Regions from separate parts of the Homo sapiens genome. Here regions 1, 2 and 4 are each linked to region 3. The links come from fine-mapping of genetic effects on gene expression. A gene starts in region 3. Each other region holds a variant in brackets. All regions are shown on one strand. Distances are between the middles of the regions.

Region 1 (4,632 bases), 170 kb after region 3:
CAGGCGTGAGCCACCGCGCCTGGCCTAATACATATCAGATTTCAAACTCAGTATGAGAAAATTTAAAATTATCTCATTAATTTTTATATTGATGATGTGTCGAGATGATAACATGTTGTATATTTCAGTGGTCCCCAACCTTTTTGGCTCCAGGGACTGGTTTCGTGGAAGACAGTTTTTCCACAGATGGGGTGAGGGATGGTTTCAGGATGATTCAAGTGCATTATATTTATTGAGTACTTTGTTTCTATTCTTATTACATTATATGATGAAATAATTATACAACTTACCATAATGTAGACTCAGTGGGAGCCCTGAGCTTGTTTTCCTGCAACTAGACAGTACCATCTGTGGGTGATGGGAGACAGTGACATCAGGCATTAGATTCTCATAAGGAGTATGCAACCTGGATCCCTCACACGCGCAGTTCACAATAGAGTTCACGCTCCTATGAGAGTCTAATGCTGCTGATGATCTAACAGGGGGCGAGCTCAAGTGGTAATGCAGGTGATGGGGCGCGGGTGTAAATACAGATGAAGCTTCACTCACTCACCTGCTGCCCACCTCCTGCTGTGCAGCCTGGTTCCTAATAGGCCCTGGACAGGTACCAGTCTGTGGCCTGGGGGTTGGGGACTCCTGGTATATATGATGTTCATGATATACATTATTAAGATTAATTCCACACCTTCCCCCCCGCTTTTTAATGTGGCTACTAGAAAGTTTAAAATTTTATCCATGGCTCACATGACATTTCCACTGGGCAGCACTGATCTAGTCCAGTGCTCTCATTTACAGATGAGGAACCTAAGGATCAGAGGAGGGAAGCGTTTCCCAAGGCCTCATACCCAGTGGGGATTAAGTAGAGAAAGCTGGGAGGTCTACATGTTGTTTCACTGCATCAGTTATTTTTGTATAAACTATGGTGGGTGGAGAGAGAGGGGGCATGATCCCAGTGGTCTGTCTCAAAAGTTGACACCAGTTGTCCAGTCTTGGCATAGATTTGGGATGTTGACATAAATCTAGAATGCAGGCCTAGGACCTTTCTCCATGCAACTGGCCATGCTACTGTCCATGAAGCTCTTCCCTCCATGGTGGGTTCTTGGTCTTTTTGGTGGGGGTGGGTCTTCTCCATATGTGGCCTTGGTGCAGACAGCCTGGACAGGTCATGGCAGAAGAGCTGAAAAGCAGTTTAGAGAGAGCATCCTTCTCACCACTCAATATCACATCAGTGTTGAAGAAGTCTTGCCACACTTCTGGAGAGTTTCCTAAACCTGCAGGACTCAGCAACATTCAAATGGATTCTGCAAATATTTCTTGAGCAGATCCTCTGTACCTAGGCTGAGAAAAGGAGAAGACACAGCTCTTGGGCTCTGTGACTTTATCACCTGGGACAAGAGAATCCATTATACATGAAACAACTCAAGAGCAATGGCAGACAACAAGGCAAGTCCCAAGAGGGCATCCAAGCCTGCAATTGTGATATGGTGGGAAGCACGGTCATGACGATGGCCTGGTTTGGTGAAAGTATATCCAGCATAGAATCCTTATATAGTCTTGAGTCCTGCTATGAACAAATTCAGTGATTTGGGCAGATTGCATTCTCTCTGACCTCAGTGTTCTCATTTGTTCACTGGAATAATGCCTTCCCTCTGGTTCCTGTTCCCCAGTGAGGCTGGGCACGGTGAAAGTGCCACACCCAGCCCAGGAAGAGGTGCCACTTTGGGCTGAGGTTTCAGGACCTCTATAGGTAGAGGGCAGGTGGGAACTTCTGAATGTAACCCATGAGGGAAGCCAGTCAAATAATTTATCTTCCAAAAGAAGATGCTGCTGCAGGTGAAAGGGAATGCTATTAATATTAAAACTGGGACAAGGGATGGAGAGAATGATTGTTCTATGTATATGGGACATATGGCCACCCTACTGGGCAGAGGCCAAAAGACATAGCAAAGACATTGTCCAGTTTGGGCTTTGAGGCTAGTACAGGGAAAAGCTTTGTGACAGAGGTTGGAGGCAGGGGTAGATGGTGAGGGTCAGGGTAGGGGTGAATGCAGGGAAGAATTTTGTGATAGCACTGGATCAGACAAAAGAAGCAAGGCCATAGAGTGCTAGACCTGGTGCCCAGCATGGCACAGCCCTGCAGTGCTGGACACTTGCCTCCCAGGGCTATTGCAAATCTAAACTGAGAACACAATAGGAGGTGTGAAGTTTGGGGATCCAGTGAGGCACTTTTATTCTCATTCCTGGCACAGTGAGCATATTTTATGGGTGTCCCCTGGCTGCTGATGGAAGAAAGCCTGCTGCGCGGATACCCCAGAGGGAGCCCAAGAATGCTCCTCGAGTGAGGCCACAGCCACTGCTGCAGGATGTAGCGGTTTAAATGTTTGAGACCTTGGGTGCTTCCCCAGGGCCTCCAGCCCTGTCCCCATCCCAAACAATGGGATCTGTTGAGCCAGATGGCTCCCAGGCAACAGGAAGCCCTGGGTCCAAGCCCCAAACATAGAGCCTTGGAGGAGATGCCCCAGTGACCTCTAGCTGGAGAGCACAAAGGGGCCGATTTTTCCTGGCTATGGGGCTGGAGCGGGAAAAAGCAGCGCTGTGGCTTTGACTCTAGAGAAAC[G/A]TGACTGGCCTAGTGTTCCAGCCTTTGCCCTGCAGCTCTCTGTTCCATCTGCTGACTTCATGGGATTGTCCTTCGAGTCCAGCTGGACCATGGTGCAAGGCAGGGGAGACAGGGCCTTTTCTTCCCCTCCCTGTGGCCCCTGGGGGTCAGGCCTGGTGCTGGGCATGGAATCCTTTTGGCTGCCCCCTGCACAAACCCATTGTCCCCACCACCTTCCTGTGCCCATCTTGCCCATGGCTTTCTCGCTGGGGCCTGCAGGGATTTGTGGAAACAACATACCTGAGCCTCCAGCCAGGTGAAGTGGTAAAACCCTCTCCTCTTCACAGGCCCCAGAGATTGGGTCTCTTTGCTTATTAACTCTGCGGCCTCCCCCGGCCCTGTGTCTTGGGATTCAACTGCACACATTTGGTTAACAGCAAGGCCGTCCCTGATGCCAGAGATCGCCATAGGCACTGAGGGGCCAGTCCTCACCCTCACTGTTTGATGGCATTTCCTCCTAGGAAGATGCCCAAGCAGAACACTTTGGCCTTTCGTGGTTGCCTTTAAATGGACCCAGTGGGATTTCTCTTTTAGAGCTCTCTGTTAGGAATCTCCCTAAGCTTGGTGCAGTTCCCCAGCTAGAAGAGGTCTTTGGCAGATCCCCTGGACTCTCTTCCTGCACCATGCTGAAATGTAGGCAGGGCTAGGCCTGTCTTCCTTACAGTTTCCTCTCTACTCATGAGTTGGTCCCATGGAGAAATCGACATCTTTCTTCCATTGATTGGTATCTACAGATAGAGCCCAACCAGGCTTCCTTCCCTCAGGGAAGCAGACCCATGTTTTAAGGGTACCTGGGATTGGTTTTAGTCAGAGATGGTATGAGACCCAGACACAGAAATGACTGTCACGAAGGAAGGAGAAGGGAGGCCCAGCGTGCAGGGCCACAGAAGGGAAGCACCAGGGGTGGTCGCAAGGCAGAAGAAGGGAGGGAAAAACGTGGCCAGGAGCCTTTACAGTGGTTTCCCTGGGACAGCTCAGGCCCAGAGCTGGCTAGTTTGAATAGTTACAGCAGCTCTGTGGCACAGGGACTGTCCCTAGTTGTCTGGTCCCTGGCCCTGGGGTGAGTCGGCCAGGTAGAGAGAGGTCCAGAGTGAAGTGTAAGAAGATGATAGGGGTAAGTGGTAAAGGAGTGGACTCTGGATTGGTTGGTTCGCTCTCTCCAGGAATTTGCTAGCTCTGGGAGAGGCAGCCCTCCAGTATCAGCAAGGCCCCGAGATGTCAAAGCATCGAATGCGGAAACTAGAAAATGTGGTTAGTGCACCCTGTCTCTTCAAAAGTCCTATAGAGAGCCAGGCACGGTAGCTCACACTTGTAATCCCTGCACTTTGGGAGGCTGAGGTGGGCGGATCACCTGAGGTCAGGAGTTTGAGACCATCTTGGCCAATGTGGTGAAACCTCATCTCCATTAAAAAACAAACAAACAAACAAACAAACAAACAAAAAAACTAGCCAGGCTTGGTGGCGGGCACCTGTAATCTCAGCTACTCAGGAGCCTGAGGCGGGAGAATCGTTTGAATCCAGGAGGCAGATGTTGCAGTGAGCCGAGATCGTGTCACTTCATTCCAGCCTGGGAAACAGTGCGAGACTCCGTCTCAAAAAAAAAAAAAAAAAAGAAAAAAAAAAAAGTCCTGTAGAGTTCCTGGCAATTCTGCTACAGTTACTTTCAACAAAACTTTATGCTTTTTGGAATCTGATTCAAGCATCAGGGTCTCTTCTGGGAAGTCTTCTGTCATCCTGCCCCTGGGAACCCCCCAGTGGAATTGCTCTCTTCTCCTGTAGAATCCATCTGTCTCTCTGGGGGACCCCTGCTGTCCTGTGCCGTAGCTTGGGGTTAGTTGTGTTTATGTTTGCTTTTCCCCATGAGCCGTGAGAGCCTTGAGGGTTCACCTGATCCCGTATCCCTTGCAGTGTCTGCCGCAGACAGGCCTGGCTCCACAGGCCTTGGCAGATCATTGAGTGAACATGGACCACAGGCC
Region 2 (4,632 bases), 110 kb before region 3:
AGAACCTGGGAGCCAGGCTTGCGGATGGAGGCACAGACAGGGCATGGACACTTTTCCCACCTCTCTCCCTGTTCCTATGTCCTCACCTCGGCCCCCATCCTGCAGTGGCTGGGGCCTTCTGGAAGCCCCAGGGGCTGAGAAACTCCTCATCATGGAGATTTCAAGGAGCATGATGTCTGATCCAGAAAGGTCCTAATAGCACTTCAGCCTGAGGCCTTATTTTTGTACTTATGGAAACTGAGGCCAAGTTGATTTTTAAATCCCTCTCAGGTGTTTTACATTTTATGAGAATTTGTTTATGGTTGTGCTTCAGGGAAAGGACTCAATCACCAAAGTCAAGGCTTCCTGCATCCACAGGGAGATTTTTTTTTTTTTTCCTTTTTCCTTTTTTTTTTTTTGAGGCAGTCTCACTCTGTTGCCCAGAATGGAATGAGGTGGTACAATCTCGGCTCACTGTAATCTCCGCCTCCCAGTTCAAGCAATTCTCCTGCCTTAGCACCCCCAGGTAGCTGGGATTACAGGCATGCACCACCACACCCAGCTAATTTTTGTGTTTTTAGTAGAGAGGGGGTTTTGCCACGTTGGCCAGGCTGGTCTCGAACCCCTGACCTCAGGTGATCCACCCACCTCGGCCTCCCAAAGTGCAGGGATTACAGGTGTGAGCCACCATGCTCAGCCAGTGGGAGATAGTTTTTGATCTTTTATGCAAGTGAGGGAGAGCAAAAGGGAAGGAGATTTCTGATTCCCTGTTCTACCTTCCTGCAAGGGCTACTATCACTGAGTAAGGGTTTCTTCCCCTCCCTAAGATCATCACTGCATGGCTCTGAGCAAATTCATTGGGGAGTGAGTTAATTACAGGCAGCTGAGGCTGAGCTGCTCTTTTCCTGCTGGTTACCTTGCTGCCCATGGTGGAAGGAAAGCTCTGCGGACTTATTCTCTTTCCATCCTCCTCTGATGACTACTCCCCCTATGTTACCATTGACGTTGATCCCTGAGGGGTAGCTTTCCCTAGCAGGCAACTTCAGAGTAAGGTGCAGTGGCCAACTCTGGGCTCCAATTCCTGCTTCCACCTACAAATAAGAACCATTTGGCCCATGAGTATGCACAAGGCCATACAGGCTCAGGGCTGATGGGATGAAGAAGTGAACTGGGATGGGTCTGGTTGAAGGGGAAGGAGTGGACACACAAAAGAACAACCAGAGATGGCGTCTAGGAAAGGAACCAGAGGTTCCATGGTGATGAAGGGTCATCTAGAAATGGCTCGAGGGAGGGCAGCTGGGACAAGATGATCCTGCTGGGTCACAGGGCAAGGAGAAGCCTCAAGAGGTTGCTGGAGTAGTTACTTAAGCCAGGTTCCAGCCCTGCCAAACTGCCTGCAAGACTGATTTGTCTGGCTGGGTGCAATGGCTCATGCCTGTAATCCCAGCACTTTCGGAGGCCAAGGTGGCCAGATCACCTAAGGTCAGGGAGTTCAAGACCAGCCTGGCCAAGATGGTGAAACCCCATCTCTACTAAAAATACAAATTAGCCAGGCGTGGTGGCGCATGCCTGTGATACCAGCTACTCTGGAGGCTGAGGCTGGAGAATCGCTTGAGCCTGGGGAGTGGAGGTTGCAGTGAGCTGAGATCCCACCATTGCACTTCAGCCTGGGTGACAAGAGCAAAACTCCGTCTCAAAAAAAAAAAAAATCGGTTTGTCTGAACCTGGGGATTATGGCTAAGAAGCAATGAGAAAAAATTTGGTTTTCTCAAAGACTGTTGGCTGAAAGAGAATGGGAACTTGGCTAGCTCTGGGGTAGGAGGTGGGGATGGAGGAGGGGTTGAGGACTCACAGAAGCATGGCCAGCCAGGGTGGACTGGACACAGAGCACTCAGTAGGCTTTTGTGGGCAGGCCTGGCAGGCTGGAGATGAGCCTTGCGGGAAGTAAGGACTGGTGTCCAGAGCCAGACATTCAGGGTCTGGGGCCCTCAGGGCCACTTGGGCCGAATTGACCAGCCACACTCGGCAAACCCAGCCTGAACCTATAGCAGAGACGGGGCCAGCTCTCTGCAGCGCATTCGGATCTTCAGTTATTATCAGACCCTCCAGACAGCCAATCTCTCTTCTCTTGGTCCTGACTTCTGGCTTGGCTGGCCCAGCACAGGGCCCTGTTCCCCAGCAGACAAAATAGAGCTGCCTCCTAAAAAGAAAGTCACCTTTGACATTTTTTTTTTTGTTAGATGGAGTCTTGCTCTGTCACCCAAGGCTGGAGTGCAGTGGTGCGATCTCACTCACCTCACTGCAACCTCCACTTCCCAGGTTCAATCCCAGATTCTTCTGCCTCAGCCTCCCAAGTAGCTGGGATTACAGGTGCCTGCCACTACGCCTGGCTAATTTTTGT[A/G]TTTTTAGTAGAGATGGGGTTTCACCATGTTGGCCAGGCTGGTCTTTGACTTCTTTGATGGGGAAGGCAGGTGAGGCCAGCAGTAGGGCAGAGGGCAATGTGCTTGGACATTGTGGCTTGTTCATCAACCCATAACCTCTGCAGGTCCGTGACAATGGACACTAGACAGGGAACTAAATTAGGAGCTCTAATCCCAGGTCTGCCACTAACTGGCCATGGGCCGTCCAGCAAGTCTCTTCCGTCTCTGGGCCTTATTCTCCCATCTGCAGAATGATAGGCCTGGATCAGGAGACCTTCAAAATTCCCATTAATGCTATATAGTCTTTTGTTTGGGGGAAATTGTCAGGATAGCAAGTCAGCAGGAATGACTTTGCCAAGAGGGAATGAGGAAAATATAGGTTCAAAGGCTTAACTGAAACCTTGTGGGGCTCTCTTCTGGGATTCGGCTATGTCCAGAGCAATGGTAGGGTGGGTCCAGTAGCATGAGGGGCAGTGGAGCTCCCTGGGACAGAACTTACCCTAAAGCAAGGAGATAGCACTGCAGGTTTTCTGTGCAAGCTTATGCAGCTTGAGCAATGAGTAAATTTAGGAGACACCATTTATAATGAGGGCTTAGGCAAGCATGAGAAACTTGACCAAGGCAAAAGAGCAAGCTGTCAGGTAGATGAGGTGCTTTGAGGATGGTATAGTGTCTACTGGGACACCATGGACAGCTGCACAGGCTGTGCACTGCACGAGTCCAGGTGGCACCATTAGAGCACAGTGGAGTTACCTCTGGGCATCTATCTCTAGGACTTATCTCTCAACACGCCTCTTTCACTTAGAGTTCTTAAGGCCTTTGGGCACACACTGCACATTTGGGCATTCATCTAGTTGAGGTTGAAACAGAGCAGGGAATGGGACAGTTTCATCACTTTGCTACAGGGTGCCAAGCACTGTCAGCCTCAGGAGTTTGGGAGTTGGTGGCGCCCACTGAACACCCAGTGAAGTGTAGAAGCAGTGGTCTCAGTGGACATGGCACCAGTGCCAGAAGACACAGAGCCAGCCCCTGGGGACAGCCACAAATACCTGGGAGGCATTTTTCATGGACTAGTTTCCTTCATTAGCAGGCGCCTGCAAGTGGCTGTAAAATCCAGCTTCACTCTTCCTGGGAAGCTGGTCTTAGAGCCATCTCCCAGTTCAGCTGCCTCTTCTCCCTCCCGTCCTCACTTGGCTGTGTCTCACCTGGGCTGGGTCCCAGCCAGGCTCACCTCCTTCAGCTACCAGAAACGTCTGTCTCCAAGCATGAATCATCCCTGAACTGAGCCCTGCCCGCTTCATGTAGCTTTCTTCCTTGTCTCTCCTCTCAGCCATTTGGCCTGGTCCTCTTTGTTACTTTTTTTTTTTTTTTGAGATGGAGTCTTGCTCTGTCTTCCAGATTGGAGTGCAGTGGCACGATCTTGGCTCACTGCAACCTCTGCATCCTGGCTTTACGTGATTCTTCTGCCTCAGCCTCCCGAGATCCTTTGATTACAGGTGTATGCCACCATGCCCACATAATTTTTGTATTTTTAGTAGAGACGGGTTTCACCACATTGGCCAGGCTGGTCTCAAACTGCTGACCTCAAGTGATCCGCCCACCTCGGCCTCCCAAAGTGCTGGATTACAGGCGTGAGCCACCGCACCCATCCTCTCTTTGTTCCTTTTACACAGGGAGTCATGGACATAGGGGTCTCCGTTACAGGAGGAAGTGAGAAAGCAGCTTCTGTTTACGGAAACCACAGTTAGCCGCAGAGACTGCCTTGTTACAGCATGTCACATTGTCCCAAATACTGGGTATGGGGATCTCCTGGGGGTGCAGTGGTCTTGACCCCTCCTGGGGCACTGGACTTCTTAGGATCCAGAACACTCCATGTTTTCCTTTGTTCCTTTCTGGAAAGGCATGGATGTTCTTTGTGTTCTGCAGATGAGGAAACTGAGCTCGCAGAAACTGGATGACTGGCTCCAGGCTGCCGGGGCTCCTAAGTGGCTGAGCTGGGACTTGGCCAAGCCCTTCCCAGCATGCCAGGCTGCCTGCTGGCCATGCTGCTTGTTACGGTCCCGAGGGGAGATTCCTTCGTTTGTGACATGAAGACTTCCAAGGGACAGTGGCAAGAGAACTAACTCCAGGGACTCTTCCCTGACAGCTGTGCTACGTTAGGCAAGTCACCTCACTGCTCTGAGCTGGGGTCTCTCATCTGTCACATAGGTTTAGAAACATGGGGTAGACCTTA
Region 3 (4,616 bases):
CTGAGGTTCAGAAGTCCTCTTATCTATAAGGTGTTATAGTACATGTTCAACTGTGTTTCCTCTGTAGATCCCGGCACAAGGCAGGGGGTCTTCCTCATGGCAGATGCTCAGGAAATAAGGGATGATGCCATTTTTAAGAGCAGTTTGGGTTGAGTGTTGGGGTGGGCAGAGGGTGGGGTGTCATGGGATACGTCTGTATAGGCAGTAGGTAAGAGAGGGTCCAAGGTCAGAGTGCCCTGCAGTCACACAAGCTGAATGCTGGTGGTGACTGATTGGTGTTCTCTACTGTTCTTGGGATGGCTGGGTGGTCTTGGGTCGCAGAAGGGCCACTTACCTCCTGCTACCGGAATCCTCTTTCCTACTCCCGTGGGAGCTCAGTGAGAACCATCCCCAGGGCTTCATTGCTGCTTTCTCAGCCCCATTTTCTGGATAGGTGGGAGGGGAGAACTACATATATGATTCAGAGAATTTCTCTCATTATGCTCAAATGAAGTTAAAAGAAAGTGAAATTCTTTTTTGTGGGGAAGGGGAGAGGGATATGCTGAGCAGAAATTCTGGAGTTTGGAGCAGGGTCCTTGGAAGGGGGAAGGCCTGCGTGAGATTCCGAAATGGGTGGTGGTGGGGAGTATTTGGACAACCAGAAGACCCTGGAAGTCGAGGAGATGAGAGGGGGGACATTCATTTAGGCCAGGCTCCCAGCCTCGGGCCTCCAGGCCAAGCCTGCCTGGCAGTGTAATTCCTGTCAAGTTTTATCTTTTAACCTACACTTATCCAAAGCCGGTTCCTTATGCTCCCCAATTTTTGGAAAAAAAGCCAAGAGACCTTGTCAGATGCGAAGTCACTTCCTAGAACATGAGAGGCTTGGAGGAATGACAGGGAGGGCAGGCCTGAAGGGGGCTTTCCCCAACTCCAATCCCTAAGCCCTCTGTCCCAGACTCGTCACTACCCAGCTAGGGCCTAGGCTCGAAGCAGGCACAACTGGATGGCTGGGGGAGAAGATGGAGGGAGGAAGGTCGATGCCCCAGGACGGACCACAGGAAAGAGGCGTTCACAGGAGACTCGCTCTCTGTGCTTCCAAGGCCGGGAGCAGCCGCCTTCCCGCCTAAATCCTCAAGATGGAAGTTGCTCCCTCTAGCTTTCCCAATAGCTAAGGCTGCTGGTTTTGTTAGTGACCCCTCCCTTCTCGTCCAAGTCGATTTCTAGCATTTACTGGATTCCAGAGTCTTGTTATTTAAGAATGCATCTTAAACGGTACTATCAAATTCATGTTACGTGCAGCCCAGATTGTTTTGGGCAGCACGAAAAGTTTCTGAGGCGCTGCGTGTACCCCACCCCAGGACACCGTGTGTGCGCGCCGAGCTGAGTGCGAGGAACGTGGCGCGAGGGCCGGGGGATGCCGGGCTGCGTGGGTGTGAGCCCTCGCGCGACCGCGACCCCGCGCCTCTCCCGCTCTCGCCGGAACGTGACCGCAGCCGCACCTCTCCTCCAGCCCTTTCCCAGCCAGACGCTTCCTTTTAGGTCCTTCTGGGCGTTTATTGTAAATTCTGCGACTAAAACACGCCGGTGAGCCCGGCCCACCGACAGATGGATCAATCGCCCCCTTCCCGGCTAGGGGAGGAGGAACCCCCCAACCCCGGAGCCTAGGGAGCCGGGAGCTGCCTCGGGACGAGCTCCTCGGAGCCCAGCCGGCTGCGGAGCCCCGGCCCGGGTCGGTCTCGGGGCCCTCCTGCCGGGGTGGGGTGCGAGCCCCTGCCCGATTCCTCTGGGGCGGTTCAGGCAGGTTTGCCGGCCTCCGAGGAGGTGGTCAGGGCGCCCTGGCCCAGCAGGCTTCTTCCCGAGCCGGGGGGAGGGGAGACCGGCTGGGGAAGGGGCATCTCGAAGGGGTGGAGGCCGGGGCGGGCGGGAGGCAAGCGCGCCGCGGGCGTGAGGGCAAAGTTCCCGAGGTCCGCGCGGAGAGCACACGTGTATGTGCGCGCGGGGCTAGGCCGGGGCCGGCAGGATGCGTTGGGTTCGGGGGCGCGCGGGGCCGGCGCCGAAGGGGATAATTCCTTTCCCTGGCACCATCGGGGAGACGCTTTGTCGGCCTCGGCTCCTGGGCGCAGGGACGCCTTAGCCCACGGAGGGTGGAGCCCCCCTCAGACCCGGGCCACCGGCTGGGGTTTTTCTAACGCCCTGCCCCCCGAGCCCCCGGATGGCTCGGGCCCCACGGACTCCGCGCCCTCCAGCCTCAGCTCAGCTCCCCAGGCTTCCCAGACCCAGCGGCGCAGGGGGCGGGGGCAGGGGCAGTGGGGGTTGGAGGGCGCAGCCGGTCCCCAGGGTGGGGAGAGCTGCGGGGGGAGGAGGAGGAGGGTGCCGACGCTTGAGTGGGTTCGAGCCCGAGCCGTAGCCGGGGGAGCCAGTCAGTTTCCGGCCAAGGCAGCAGGTCAGTCCCAGGAAGGGCGGGCGATTGAGCCGAGGGAGCCGGCGGCTGGGCTCTCCTCTCGGCCCGCGATCCCCGGCGCCGCCGCCGCCGCCACCGCCACCGCCACCGCCTTCGCCTTGTCGCCGCCGCCGCTGCAGAGCATCGTAGCTCCGCCGCGCTCCCGCGCCCCGCGCCCCGCGCCGCCAGCCGCCTGGGAGCCCGAGCGCCGAGCCCGGGGCGGAGGAGAGGGGCGCTGGCGCGAGAGCCCGGGCGAGGGAGCCGCGAAGGGAGAAGGGGGCGGGCGGAGGGAGGAGCAGGGAGAGTGGGAGAAGGGGGAGGGAGAGAGGAGAGCGAGGGAGAGCTGGAGAGAGCGAGAGCAAAGAGCGAGCGAGGGAGAGGAGAGAGAGAGAGAGGAGAGAGAAAGACACACGCACGCAGAGACACACGGTCACTGGAATTCCATTAGAAAAAAGTGAGCCGAGCAAGGGTTAGCGGGAGAAGATTTTTTTGAATCTTGTCTTCGTCTTGGTGCGAAAGAAGCGACTCCAGTCTCTCGTCCTCGAAGCTCCGACTGGATTGTTCTTGGGCGCTGACACCCGTCTGTGGATTTCTTTTCTATTTGCATTTTATTCCGACCCCCTCCCTCGCCGCTTCCTTCCAGCCCTTCACTCGCAAATCGCCTCTCTCCCCACCTCCCCAGGCCCCTCCTGGGAAGCGCAGGGGAATTGGACCCGCGGGGACTCACGCCTTCCCGGACGATTGGAGGGGAGGGCTGACCCCAGGACTGGGCTGTTGGCTTAGAAAGCCGATACACAGATACGCGTATATTTGATTGTAGCGGGCAAGGGGGGCGTCGAGAGGCAGCAGCCCATCGCCCGCCTCTCACCCCACCCCCTCCAGCCAGAGGCGAGAATCGCAGGACTCGGGATCTTCATCGGGTGGACTAGCTGGGATCTCCGCATTGGATTTGGGGCTGATTACCACTGCTTGCCTATTATTATTGTTGTTGTTACTACTATTATTTTTTTTTACCCAAGGGAGAAAGACAAAAAAACGGTGGGATTTATTTAACATGATCTTGGCAAACGTCTTCTGCCTCTTCTTCTTTCTAGGTGAGTACCTGCGGGCGGCGAGCTCGAGGGGGAGGCGAGAAGCCGGGGAGGCGGGGGGCGAGCGGAGCGCCGGTGGGGGGCTGGCGGGAGGTCGGCGGGGAGAGCGCGCCGCGGAGCTAGCCGGGCCCGGTGCTGGCGAACCGAGCGGGGCCGGGCGGCAGGGACGCGGACGAGGGACCGGAGCCGCGGCTGGCTGGCGACGCAGGGGGATCGGGAGGGAGACTCAACATCCGAACCAGCCCCGCAGACACTGTGCACGCACACACACACCCGCGCTCGCTCACACGCCAGTATAGCGCGCATCTCCCCCGAAATAATGGGTTCGAATTGCGGCAACTTAAGAAAAAAAAATATCCAACTCTTGATCTGCAAGAAGGGAGGGAGAGAGAGGCTCCTAGGCGGGGAGAGAACAGTCCTGCGGGGTCCGCCTTTCCTGGTCTGCTCCCCGAGTCGGTCGTGGTGGAGGGCGCGGGTTTCTCCGGCGGCTCCCGCTTGGACATCGCGCGGGGAGCGCTGGCAGTCACTCCCCACCTGCCAGCCGCGCCTGGCAAACGGAGCCCGCGTCCCCACGCCCTGAGCCCCTAACCGGCGGCTCCACTCCCCGGAACACTTTTCAAGTTTCTCCCCACCGAGCCCCGAGCCAGATGGGTGGGCGGGAGCGGAGGGTTGTGAGCAGCCGTTCCCGGCCTTCCCTCCTCCACCTCTGGGGGCCGCGGACCCCCGTGGCTGGTGGGAAGAGGCGGGAGGGAGGCCAAAGTTTGCTTTCTCCGTTGAAGAGGGTGGGAGGCGAGGGAGGAAAAACGGGTCTGAACAAAGACCACTGCTCCTTCTGCAAACCCCCCCCACTGCCCCCCCCGCCGCCTCCAAGACAGGGAGGAGAGGCTGCCTGGCGCCACTGAGCCCCACGCAGTTTCTTTTCCACACAGAATTCCCAGCTCCTCTCTCCCTTTAAAGCTAGGTGAAATCGCAGCTGCTTGGGAAATGGCAATCTCCGGAGGGAGGTGAGGAAAGGCGGTTGTTTGCAAGGCTGTGCACCACCGGGAGTCCCAGGCAGGGCTGCTGCCAGGGAGTAGACGCTCCCATAGAGGGAGCCGGGTAACTAC
Region 4 (4,632 bases), 50 kb before region 3:
GGGCACTGAGTTTCCCAGCTTTGCTGTTAGGCAGCTACTGCCCGTGAAGGTGAAACAGCTCTCACCTTCCTTCAGGGCTCCTGGGCACAGCTGTCTATAAGCTGACGCTGGCACTTCCTCTCACCTCCCCAGGGTGCTGGGGAGGCAGTGGGCAGGGCAGCAGGCCTGGCTGGGTCAGAGAGTGCACAGCAGCCACCTAGATGGGTGATGTCCCAGCCTGAAGCCCCTCTGAACCCTGACAGCTGGCAGCCAGGGAGGACAGGGGAGCTTCTTTGGGGAATGGGAGCAGTTGCTTGGTGGTCCCCACCCAAGGCAAGGTCCCTGTTCCTGGGGAGAGCTTGGTCTGGCTGGCAGAACTTTCCAAGTTGGTGCCTGTGGCTGGGAATATTCCATGGGAGTTTGGATAGGGTTCACAAAGGCAATGGGTGGCTGGGTGCGGTGGCTTATGTCTGTAATCCCAGCACTTTGGGGGGCCAAGGCAGGCTGATCACTTGAGGTTAGGAGTTCGACACCAGCCTGGCCAATATGGAGAAACCCCGTCTCTATTAAAAATACAAAAAAAAAAAAAATTAGCGGGCTGTGGTGGTGGGTGCCTGTAATCCCATCTACTTGGGAGGCTGAGGCAGGAGAATTGCTTGAACCTGGGAGGTGGAGGTTGCAGTGAGCTGAGATTGTGCCACTGCACTCCAGCCTGGGCGACAGAGTGAGACATGATCTCAAACAAACAAACAAAAAACAAAGGCAATAGGTGATGGGTACCCAGACATCTTTTCTCCCTGCTTGGATGAAGCCAGTCACACAGCCAGGACTGGCTTGATGAATCAGTACAGGAGGAATCTTCCCACATTGGATTAGAAAGGTACAGGGAAGGCCTTCCTGCCCCCTCAAATGTCTCCCCTATTACACCTGGAGACCCCAATTAAAAGTAATTACCCATGGCAGAGGCCATACTTTAAAGTGACATTAGTGCATGCATTAGATTCCCCAGTGGCTGACTGAGTGTTGGAGAGGCCAGTGCAGGTGGTAAGGGGCAGTGCCAGGGGCCCTAGGGGTAGGGAACTGAGACCAGAAAAGGTTAAAAACAAACAAACAAACAAACAAAGACCAGGTGCAGTGGCTCACGCCTGTAATCCCAGCATTTTGGGAGGCCAAGGCAGGTGGATCACAAGGTCAGGTGTTCGAGACCAGTCTGACAAACATGGTGAAACTCTGTCTCTACTAAAAAAATTAGCTGGGCGCTAATTTTTGTATTTTGTAAAAATACAAAAATAAAGTGGTGCACGCCTGTAATCCCAGCATTTTGGGAGGCCAAGGCAGGTGGATCACAAGGTCAGGTGTTCGAGACCAGCCTGACAAACATGGTGAAACTCTGTCTCTACTAAAAAAATTAGCTGGGCGCTAATTTTTGTATTTTTGTATTTTGTAAAAATACAAAAATTAGGTGGTGCACGCCTGTAATCCTAGCTACTCAGGAGGCTGAGGCAGGAGAATCGCTTGAACCCTGGAGGCAGAGGTTGCAGTGAGCCGAGATCTTGCCATTGCATTCCAACCTGAGCAACAGAGTGAGACTCTGTCTCAACAAAACAAAACAAAACAAACAAACAAAAAACCAACCAAACAAAACAAAAAGAAAAAAAAAAGACAGTCTTCTGACCACTTGAACTCCCACAGCCACCAGGAAGTCCTCTGTATCCATTCATCCTAGGGAGGCGGCTAGGCTGAGAGATTCCTCTGCAGCTAAACCAAGAAAGACTTTGCTGGTGCAGGGCAAGGGTGGGGCCAGGAAACCAGCTCCAGTGGGGCTCACCTTCTGTCTCCTTTGTTTTCTAGCTGGGTGGCCCTGGGCAGGTGACTTATCCTCTCCAGCCTCAGTTTCTCCATCTGTAAGAAATCATTACCAATTCCGTAAGGGTGCTGGGCAGATTCAGTGAGACAATGTGGCATATTCAGAATAGTGCCCCGTAAGTGCAGAGAAGGTGTGGCTGCCCCGGTCAGGGAGGGTTCAGGCCTATGTTCCATGAAGCTCCTGTCTCCCTGTCTGCCTATTCCTCGGGCTGCTGATCAGTCTTTCTTAATAAGCCTCTCTTTATCTGCCCCTCTTCTTCGCCATCGCTCAGCTCGTCCTGTGT[G/C]TCTGGCCGCTGTCATGTTATCTCCCTGTCTATCTTGTTCCCATCTCTGCTGTGTGCCTGGCTCCATCTCTCCCCGCCTCCATCCCATCCTCCCTCCTTGCTCTGGGTTTCTCCTTGCCATCTGTCTGGCAAACGCTAGTCCTATGGACCCCCGCCCCCGGCCCATCACTATCACCCCCTCCCCACAGACCCCCGGGACTTTCCCGCCTGAGCCCGGCTCCTTGTGCCCGTCTTCCTGTGCCCCCTCTTTCCCACAACAGACCTGGCCTGAGCCGTTTCCTGGCACTCCCACCCCACCCTGAGCAGGCGGTGTGGAGTGGAGCAATGCAGGCAGATGAGGGGGAGTGCGGTCTCCCGAGGCGAGGGTCGGGCCTGCTAATTCCCCCGCTCTGGGTGGAAGACGCAGAGGCCTCATTCAATTATGTCACATCCACTCAGCCGCTCCACCCAGATGATACAGACCAGCCTGCTCACCCTCCCCTGCCAGGACCTAATGGAGAGAGATCTTCTTCTGCCTGGCCGACCACAGGGTCCTCCTGGACCTGGATGGGCCCAGCCTGTCTGACCTCAGGGCTCTTGGCCAATTGCGATTTGCTGTTCACTCCAATTACACCCAACAATTGGCCTCTGGAGTTTGTCCCTCTCACCGTAATCATTATGGAATTGGATCTCGGGGCCTCTCATTCCATTACTGCCCCCTCCCCATGTGTCCAAGGCCTGCAGGAGCCAGGCCGGCCTTACCCCTCCCTTAAGGCCCCAGCCCGTGGGTAAGCAGACCAGGGAGGTGACCACAGGGACACAGGGCCTGCTTCTCCCATTTGAAATACACACCTAAGGGCATCACCATGGTGTTCGTTCCAGGCATCAGTTCTTTACTGACTCAAAGCTGTGCCAGGTGCTGTGGGAGATTCCAGAGAAACCCCAAACCCTTTCCATTGCTCAAGAAGTTCAGTCTGGGGAGACGAAGCCAACAGAATGAAACAATTACGCCCAGTGCCGGCCATAAATAGAAGTGGATTCAGGGAACAGAAGATCAGATATCTGGAGGACACACATTTATTGGGAGTTTACTGGGTGGCAGATTCTTTCATGTGCCTGATATCATTTAATCCTCACCAATCTGGGAGAAAGGTATTGTCTCCATGTTTGAAGGGTCTGGGGGTAGAAACAGGCCCAGAGTCATTGAGAGGCTTGTCTGAACTCAAGCCGCTGTTAAGTGACACAGCCTGTGCTCAGCGCCTTGGAGTGAAATCATTTCTTTCCCGGCGTCCTGTAGGAGCTGCTGTGTTTAGGGCAGGCTCTGAGGCAGGATAGGGTGGGCAGAGGGAAGGAGGGAGGACCTCAGGTGGGGACAGCTGGAGCGAGTTTAGAAATAAGGACATTTCAGCTGGGTGTGGTGGCTCACGCCTGTAATGCCAGCACTTTGGGAGGCTGAGGCAGGAGGATCACGAGGTCAGGAAATCGAGACCATCCTGGCCAACATGGTGAAACCCCGTCTCTACTGAAAATACAAAAATTAGCTGGGCGTGGTGGTGTGTGCCTGTAATCTCAGCTACTCGGGAGGCTGAGGTGGGAGAATCGCTTGAACCTGGGAGGCAGAGGTTGCAGTGAGCTGAGATCTTGCCACTGCACTCCAGCCTGGCGACATAGCGAGACTCTGCCTCAAAAAAAAAAAAAAAAAAAAAAAAGGACATTTCAGAAAACAACAGATGCTGACAAGTCTATGGAGAAACAGTAATGCTTTTACACTGTTGGTGGGAGTGTAAATTAGTTCAACCATTGTGGAAGACAGTGTGGCGATTCCTCAAGGATCTAGAACTAGAAATAGCATTTGACACAGCAATCCCATTACTGGGTATATACCCAAAGGATTATAAATCATTCTACTAGAAAGACACATGCACACGTGTGTATTGCAGCACTGTTTACAATAGCAAAGACTTGGAACCAACCCAAATGTCCATCAATGATAGACTGGATAAAGAAAATGTGGCACATATGCACCATGGAATACTATGCAGCCATAAGAAAGAATGAGATCATGTCCTTTGCAGGAACATAGATGAAGCTGGAAACCATCATTCTCAGCAAACTAACACAGGAACAGAAAATCAAACACTGCACGTTCTCACTCATAAGTAGGAGTTGAACAGTGGAGAACACATGGACACAGGGAGGGGAACATTACACAGTGGGGCCTGTTCGGGGGGTGGGGGCAAGGGGAGGGAGAACATTAGAACAAATACCTAATGCATGCGGGGCTTAAAACCTAGATGATGGGTTGATAGGTGCAGCAAACCACCATGGCACATTTACAGCTATGTAACAAACCTGCACGTTCTGCACATGTATCCCGGAACTTAAAGTAAAATAAAAAAAAGTTACAAAAGAAAGAAGGACATTGATGGGGGTAAAGTGAGAGGGCTGCCGGCAGGGTGGGGGATATGCTGTGGGGAATATGAGAAATGCGGCTGGCTAAGGAAAGTGGGGGCCTTGCATGGCT

Which allele goes with the higher level. Positions count from the first base shown, and alleles are read on the strand shown. Sizes are in standard deviations (SD) of each study's normalised expression. Not every link is listed here.
For the expression in esophagus muscle of the gene that starts at base 2,758 in region 3, G is the low allele of the variant in region 1 and A is the other (moderate effect, 0.72 SD a copy in GTEx).

What was found. PIP is the estimated chance that this variant, and not a neighbour inherited with it, causes the effect.
Region 1: its variant is the best candidate, but not a certain one, in a credible set for the expression of GFRA2 in esophagus muscle (GTEx, PIP 0.89).
Region 2: its variant is the best candidate, but not a certain one, in a credible set for the expression of GFRA2 in whole blood (TOPMed, PIP 0.71).
Region 4: its variant is the best candidate, but not a certain one, in a credible set for the expression of GFRA2 in whole blood (TOPMed, PIP 0.62).

The regions. Positions count from the first base shown.
Region 1 is chr8:21,614,524-21,619,155 of GRCh38, reverse strand. No RefSeq gene overlaps it. Among named protein-coding and RNA genes, the nearest start is that of GFRA2, 170 kb to the left of the region's middle. The variant G/A (reference allele first, on the strand shown) is at 2,618.
Region 2 is chr8:21,896,893-21,901,524 of GRCh38, reverse strand. No RefSeq gene overlaps it. Among named protein-coding and RNA genes, the nearest start is that of DOK2, 14 kb to the left of the region's middle. RefSeq lists a silencer at 3,994-4,053 and enhancers at 4,174-4,223, 4,314-4,463. The variant A/G (reference allele first, on the strand shown) is at 2,381.
Region 3 is chr8:21,787,017-21,791,632 of GRCh38, reverse strand. It overlaps GFRA2 (GDNF family receptor alpha 2), which reads left to right and starts at 2,758. Exons shown (of 9, transcript NM_001495.5): 1 at 2,758-3,513. The coding sequence starts at 3,474.
Region 4 is chr8:21,836,641-21,841,272 of GRCh38, reverse strand. No RefSeq gene overlaps it. Among named protein-coding and RNA genes, the nearest start is that of GFRA2, 50 kb to the right of the region's middle. The variant G/C (reference allele first, on the strand shown) is at 2,130.